Linked DNA regions of Homo sapiens. The protein of the gene in region 2 purifies or fractionates together with the protein of the main gene of each other region. This does not show direct contact. Each region holds a gene or a part of one and is shown on either strand. Other genes may lie near its edges. The genes, in order: USO1 and SETD9.

Region 1 (3,529 bases), on a different chromosome or scaffold from region 2:
TAACCGTACGTTAGCCTGAAAGGTAGTCATTAACTCATGGTTCATTATGTGGTTGTCAACTTTAGGAAGACCTCACCTATCTGAGCTGGTCTGGTGACAGTAATATAGTTCTTTCTCTGATGGCAAGTGCCACCTTAGGATGGCAGTAGTGGTGGAACATGGGCACAGTGCAGCATTCACGAGTGCTCTGTAACACACAGCTGTCTCCTTCATCAAGACAGTGACCTTCCTTCTCTTTCAAAAGTTGTGTCCTATTCCTGACCCCAGAAGGCAGATAAATACGTTATTTTCTAGCCCAGGCTATCTTGTCTTTAAGTAAACCCACTTCTTCAACAGGAAATCATTGCCAAGAACTCCAGTGCTGAATTTAAAAACGTCCAAACCCTTTTCCAACCTCTTCTACTTCTGTACTTCTAACCCCCTCCAATCTTAGGGAATCATAATCATTGGTTTTAAAGAAGATTGTTTTTAACATTCAGTTATAGTTGTGTACCCCTAATAAGAAAAGTCGCCTCATCATTTTCACTTGCCTCATCTTTTATTAAGAATAAAATACTTTTAAGATGTAAACAAAGGGAACCATGACCAAGGATTAAGTCAACGTATCTATTTTTATTATGAAACATTAAATTTTGACACATTGCCTCATTTGCTTTTTTAAAATCTATTATCTGACTTAAACCTATTCAGCAAAAATGCCAATAAATTATATTAATCATACTTTGGGTCTTTTTAAAACTAGGAACATAATATGTTTTATGATAAACAATACTACTAAATCTGAGTTGTATGAACTGTTAACTTGAAATTTGTTTTAGATGTTTAGCTTAAAACAAAAAGAAAACCAATCACATTAATACACTGTTGCAAAAGTTTCTCCGGAATGCCCTCCACATCACTGTGTGTCAGCATCCTTCGGCTTCTTCACTGAGGTATGGAATGCAGCCATATGTAGGTGTCAAGGCACTCATTCTAAGCTGTCCTATCCTGCACATCTTAGCAATCACATTAGATGGAGGGCTGATGATATGCACTAACTCCCAACCCAGGCTATCTTGCTTTTAAATAAACTAATTTCTTTAAAAGAAAATCATCAACTAAGGACTCAAATGCTGAATTTAGAAATAATAATTCCAATTCAATACACATTCAATCAAATGTGTTAGTACTTAAAAGTCACAAATTTTGCAAAGTAAACAACGAATGAACTAAGGCAAATAGCATTGTCACCACATGCCTTAAAATGGTATATTTTTGGTGTTTGAAGCTCTTTGCAAATTACATTTTGGGACAGTTCAGATGGATTTAAATAAAAGATGTGTGTTCTACATAAATTCAGTTTTAAGGTTTTCAACATGGGTGGCAACATTACAAAAATATATCAATAGTCTTAATAGTGAATGTTTTCCACCTGGTTTCTAAATCTTTATTTTCCATGGAGGTAAACCAAAGTTTAGAGTCCATCTTCAGAGTTATGATATAATCTCTATTGTTCCTAGAGATTTGAAAACTAGATATGATCTAGATCCTTGCCAGGATCTTCACTTTCATCATCCTCATCCTCTTGGTCTCCAGATTCAAGTTCATCCTCTTCTTCAACCTAGAGGAAAAAGACGTATTTAATATTGTGAAAATCTGTTCATGTCACATTCAACATTTAACAATATATACTACTGATAATTTTTTTTTTTTCTGAGATGGAGTTTTGCTCGTTACCCAGGCTGGAGTGCAATGGTGCGATCTCGGCTCACTGCAACCTCTGCCTGCCAGGTTCAAGCGATTATCCTGTCTCAGCCTCCCGAGTAGCTGGGATTACAGGTGCCTGCCACCAAGCGCCCTGCTAATTTTTGTATTTTTAGTAGAGATGGGGTTTCACCATGTTGGCCAGGCTGGTCTCGAACCCCTGACCTCAGGTAATCTGCCCACCTCAGCCCCCCAAAGTGCTAGGATTACAGGTGTGAGCACTGTGCCCAGACAAATTTTGTATTCTAGTAACTACAGTAGAATATAAGCCATCTGATTTCTTTGATTTGATGCCAAGGCTCTCTGTCATTTCTAATATGAATGAGATATATCAGTTAACTTTGCTGATAAATGGCTACACCTCTTTACACACAAATCTGAAACAAACATGGCAAAAGATAATGACATGCTTGGGTGACTACAGTCTTGTTACCAATCAAATCAATTCACTTTCTAGGCTTACGGTCCAAAAGAAAATAGTCTGTAAGTACTGAAAACTGAACCTAATCTGTGTATTAAGTAAATTCAATGAAAACAGTGAAAACAGTATAGATGGTACCATATTCATGAACCCACATATCCATTCCTATAATACAGGCACAACTTTTCCATGTTACATTAAAAATCTTTTAAATGCATTATACTAAAACATAATACAAATCATTTTTGGAGACATTTTAATCTTACTGGATGACCAAGATCCTTGAGTTTATTCTTCAATGACAGTATTTTCTGATCTTGATCGGCCAAGAGCACCAAGAGATCATCTTGTTCTTTTTTAGAATCTGTAATTTCCAACTCTAGTTTGTCTTTCTCAGTTTGTAAAATGGCAATGGTACTATTAGATGAATCCAGCTGCTCTTTAATGGCAGTTCTTTCCTCAGACAGAGCTTTAATTTCATTCTAGGAAAAGAAAGGTGAAAGGCAGGAATCTAAAATTAGCACTCACTTTCCTAGAGTTTTTAACAAATAGTTTCTTTCTATGACAAATCACTGTACTTGTTCAACCTAAGGAATTTAGGGGTGGAGGTTAAGGGTACAGGAGGTTTAACACACACACTAACATGAATTTATTAGACTGTTCATCAAAAATGGTTATTGCCAAAAAATAGTTTAACATCCAAAAAATAGTTTTAGTTAGCTATCCCTGAAAAAACCTTTAAGAGACTTAAAAAAAACAGTACCATTTCAGATAATCAAAGGAGTAAACAGAAACACAAAGCATTTTACAGAAGAAGTCTGATTAGTACCAGAATTTTAGAACTCAAAGCTCAAGTTAAAAAAAAATTTTTTATCCCAACTTCAAGCATACAATTAAATGAAAATAGCTTCAAATAAAAATCTATGGTTTAAAAATAAAATAATTTGGCCACAATCCAAAAAGCACAATTATACATTATTTTCCTTATTTTCCTTAATGTGACCTCATTCCTTTCTTCATGCTATTTATTCTGATGTCTCTGTCACACAATAATATGCTGACAGGATTTAATGTGCCTATGTTCCACGGCTTATGGAAAGCCTACATGTGGCTTGTGTATTAGCTAAATTTGTACTCCTTGTTTTGTTATTGTGATTAGATGTTGATCTTAAAAAGAAAACACAGGCCGGGTGTGGTGGCTCACGCCTGTAATCCCAGCACTTTGGGGGGGGCCAATGCGGGCAGATCACCTGAGGTCAGGAGTTTGAGACCAGCCTGGCCAACATGGCGAATCCTCGTCTCTACTAAAAGTACAAAAATTAGCTGAGCATGTTGGCAGGTGCCTGAAATCCCAGCTACTCAGGA
Region 2 (4,303 bases):
ATGTTCCAGGCATGTTAATCTATTTATTAAACTTCTTTTAGTATTAATTTATTTATTCTATTTAGTCTTTACAAAATTAGATTACTCGTACAGCAGGAAACTGAAACTCCCTTGTTTGGGGATGTAAAATTAGAAAACAGGAGAATGAATTTTTAAAAACCTGGGTCTATCTGACTCAAATATTCACACACACACTTTCCACTATACCAAATAATATAATGTTAGTTTAACACATAACGTAGTCTATTTAGCATTCTAGTTAATGATCTTGTGCCAAGAAATTGCCTTACTTTCCAAGTGTAGAAAGGGCAGGAAGGTCTTCATTCGGTGACTTATGGGTTTAAATGTTGTCTTTTATGTTTTGATCCGTACGCTTTTTTTTTTTCTTTTTTTTGAGATGGAGCCTAGCACTGTCACCCAGGCTGGAGCGCAATGGCACAATCTCGGCTCACTGCAACCTCCGCCTCCCGGGTTCACGCCATTCTCCTGCCTCAACCTCCTGAATAGCTGGGATTACAGGTGCACACCACCACACCTGGCTAATTTCTTGTATTTTCAGTAGAGACAGGGTTTCACTATGTTGGCCAGACTGGTCTCAAACCCCTCGCGATCTGCCCGCCTCGGCCTCCCAAAGTGCTGGGATTACCGGCGTGAGCCTATCCATACCATTTTTATCCTTAGCTATCAATTAAACCAAACTGACATGTTTCTCTAGTGCTTTTTAAGTAATTTGTCAAAGTGGGTCATACTATGTTCTAAATTTAAACGTTGACAGGAAAGCTTTCCTTGAAAGAAAAAGTGCATTTATCCCAACAAATACTCCAGGATACTTTCTAACACAAAACAATTTACAAACAGTTAATTTCCGAATTAGAATTGCAAAAATCTATGGAAACTCGAGTTTCCAATTTAATCCCTTACTCTAAGGATTGCAAGGCTGGGTATGTTACTGAACTTATGTTTATCAATACGTAAGAAGCTTGGCAAAGTATAATATTAATCGTGCTGTTACCAGGATACATAGATACGACTGCGCCTTTTGGTACCAATCCTTTAGTAACGAAGACACCTTTTCCAGCAGAAATCAATGAGCTAGTTGCTTGGGCAACACTGAAACCCAAAGTCTTGTAAAGAATTTCTTCTGGTTTAAAGGTACTTTGCTGTTGATGTCTGTTTTCAAGCAGTTTCACCCCTTGATGTTCAACTGCCAGTAGGTCTTGATATTTTGATTTAACAGATTCTGGAAGCATAGACAAGATTTCTGATTGTTTATTGAAATCATTTAAGAATAGAGCCTGGAAAACTTTCAGTAATGTTCCTAGGACATCTTCATCTGAGATAACTTTGTCTTTGGATTCCTCTGGAACATATCGGAGGGTCCTGAAAATGGGAAAAGTTTCTATTCACTACCCTTCAACTGATAAAAGCCAAACTTACCTGCATAACTTCTGGGTTCCTGGCCTTAAGGAACTATAAGCTTATTCTCATGTGTGTGGAGGGCTGGAAACTAAGTTCAGAAAAGAATTGTTTGAGGGAGTTCTAGTTAGCTAACTCCCAACACTTCCCACCCAAGTAGTCAGTACTTATGAAAGGCCCATTCTATACCACATGCTGTGGGGTCCTTACATTATTCCATTTTTGCAGACAAGGAAAGCAAAATTGTTAGGGAACTTGTTCAAGGTCCCAAAGCCAGTAAGTGGGAGAGCCAGAGGCAGAAACGAAGTTCAGCTCTTTCCCGTACTACACCCAACAGCCAAGCTGAATGTCATCACAATGAGAATGAATGACCTCACATTCAATGGCTTTTTAAAAATGGCCTTGTAGTTTCAAAGACAAATTCAACATCGTATACTTTGTGACACTCCCTCCAGGACGACTAACGTCTTCAATGACTGCACCTCTTATTTCCATAATCATTATCTTTTTGTACTAACTGCATTATTTTTACTTGAACAAAAAGGTTGTAATTCCCGCCTCACGGTTCCGAGTCATGATACAACTGATCTCCTGTTTCCCTAGCATGCAACCTTCCGGAAACCGCTTTGTTTCCCTATTTGTCGGACACTGACTTCAGGGAGGCCCGGTCGGCCTCTTTGGTGAGCACGGTGTTGAGCTGATCACTGGTGCGCCCTTAATAACGCCGGCGGGACTCACCCCAATCCGAAACCCACCATCCCGACGTGCTTTTGAGTGGCGTTCTGCCCGTTCTTAACGCGCGAGCTACTGCACGCTATTCTCACAGCCGGGATGGGCTTCTTTAACCACGTGAAGTACTTGTATGAACTATGAAAATAAACCCTGGCTTGGCTTTTCTGAGGAAGTTCAAGCACCTAATTAACCCCTGGTGGAGAAAAAGCCACGCACTCTCACGCGGTAAGGGCAGTCTTTTTAAAAAGTTTCCATTTTTGCCCAGATACAAGCTCCCCAGTCAGTGCCGAACGCAACAGGGAAGAACAGGCGACACATCCGGCTGGCGAGCTCGGCCTCGCGGGCCCGGCAGCGCAGCGGACACTGGGAAAGAGGCCATAGGCCCCGCCCACCTGAAGCCACCGCCCACTTCAGGCTTCCAGCGGGCCTCGGACTCCACCAACCTCGGCCCCGCCCGCCTCTGGCCCGCGTTCCTTAAACCCCTCCGAGGCCTCAGTCCCCGCCCACCCGGCCCGCCCACCTCAGTCCCTGCCCACCCGGGCCCGCCCATCTCAGGCCGGCAGTCAGCCTCAGGCTCTCCGCTTTGCGTCCCGCCGCCGTGGTGGCGTCTGGGAACCGAAGGCAGGTGCCCCTCGTTCTGCCGTCCCGCCCTCTCACCTCGGGTTGTGGCTTAGGTTCAGTGCGATCCAGGGAACGAAGCGGTACTTGTAACGGCGCCATCGCTGCCACAGGCCCCGCAGCAGACGGCCAGGCATGGCTGCCCCGCGGGGCCGTGACCAGGACGGCGCGGGGAAGGCGGATCGAGGCCTCGGGCCCGCCCCGGCCCGGGAGGAGAGGGGGCCGCGCTCGGCCGCCTTCCCCTGGCTCCGCTCTCAGTGTTCCTGGCACCGCCTGACTTCTGTTGCTCTGGGGCTTCGTCCTTCCCCTTTCCTGACCTCACCTCTCTGAATGAGAGGCGCGTAGAGCTGGAAGGAGGTCCCCTTGACCACTTTTTCTTTCTCCGGTCGCTCGGGTGCTTCCGTGGGCGCACACAAGCGCTAGCCCTGGTTGCGGGCGAAGGGTCACCGGGCCTCAGGGGCGAACCCGCCCCCGAGACCGCGTCCCAGGAGCGGACCGCCTAGTTTCTCTGTCACGGCTGTCTGGCCTGCCCCTTTGTCCCGGCCGCGCTCTGTGTTCCATCCTCCGTCCACTTGAGCTCTGCCTCTTCCTCGACGTTCTCTCCCCTTCTCTCCGTGGCCCCAGAGCAGCCCGACTTCGGGAACCCGAGTTTCAGTCCTCCCCAGACAGCAGCCCTTCTTCTGCGTGAACCCGTGTTCCCAAAGTTACCAGTTTGGGCGTTTTGCGAATATTTACACGTAAAAAAACAAAGTGTCATGATTCCCTGTTTTCACTCGTTTTTCTCTTCATTGACCCAACCATTCAAAGGCAAAACTACATGGACAAATGTTTCTGAAAAACAGCTTTGTTGAGGAATGGTTGGGATACAATAAACTGCACATATTTAAAGTGAACAATTTGATAGGTTTTCGACACCACAGCCAAGATAGTAATCCAGCCCCTCCCCCAGTCCCCAAGCAACCACTGAGGTGCTTTTGTCCTTTTAATATGGTCTTCGCTTCAATTTGGAAACGTTTTGTCTAGAAGTTCTGCATCTGTGTTCGTGAGAGATATTGTTTCGTAGTTTTCTTGTAGTGTCTTAATCTGGCTTTGGTATTTAGGCTAATGTTGACTTCATAGGATGAGGTGGGAAGTAGTCCCCCATAGGTGAAATTTAAAAGGAACTTTACGACCGCTCCTCCCCAACACCCAGATGCATGCACACGCACACACATATTTAGAACAGGTTTGGACAAAGTTCAGTTTTAAGGGGGGCAAACTACAGGAATCCCTTAACCATATTCAAATCACCAAGTGTTTATTGACAGATAAATACGTTGGTATCATTTCCTCTATTCTTTGCCTGAGAGTGAGGTTGGATCCTAAACTATTGAAATTGAACGGCTCAGATCTAATAAAAACTCAGCCAAGGCCGGGCGCAGTGGCTCACGCCTGTAATCCCAGCACTTTGGGAGGCCGAGGCGGGTGGATCCCCTGAGGTCAGGAGTTCGGGACCAATCTGGCCAACATGGCGAAACCCCGTCTTTACTAAAAAAGA

The links.
Region 1: the proteins of SETD9 (region 2) and USO1 purify together in Homo sapiens (affinity purification with mass spectrometry; 3 studies listed by BioGRID and IntAct, with this or other methods). This does not show direct contact.

The regions. Positions count from the first base shown.
Region 1 is NC_000004.12:75,811,277-75,814,805, reverse strand, and holds the end of USO1 (general vesicular transport factor p115), read right to left. Parts: intron 2,647-3,529; coding exon 2,431-2,646; intron 1,601-2,430; coding exon 1,511-1,600; 3' UTR 520-1,510; downstream 1-519. UniProt on the Homo sapiens protein: General vesicular transport factor required for intercisternal transport in the Golgi stack; it is required for transcytotic fusion and/or subsequent binding of the vesicles to the target membrane.
Region 2 is NC_000005.10:56,908,246-56,912,548, reverse strand, and holds the start of SETD9 (SET domain-containing protein 9), read right to left. Parts: upstream 2,954-4,303; 5' UTR 2,904-2,953; coding exon 2,806-2,903; intron 2,493-2,805; exon of another isoform or gene 2,175-2,492; coding exon of another isoform or gene 2,155-2,174; intron 2,124-2,154; exon of another isoform or gene 1,629-2,123; coding exon of another isoform or gene 1,627-1,628; intron 1,381-1,626; coding exon 1,013-1,380; exon of another isoform or gene 325-1,012; coding exon of another isoform or gene 291-324; intron 1-290.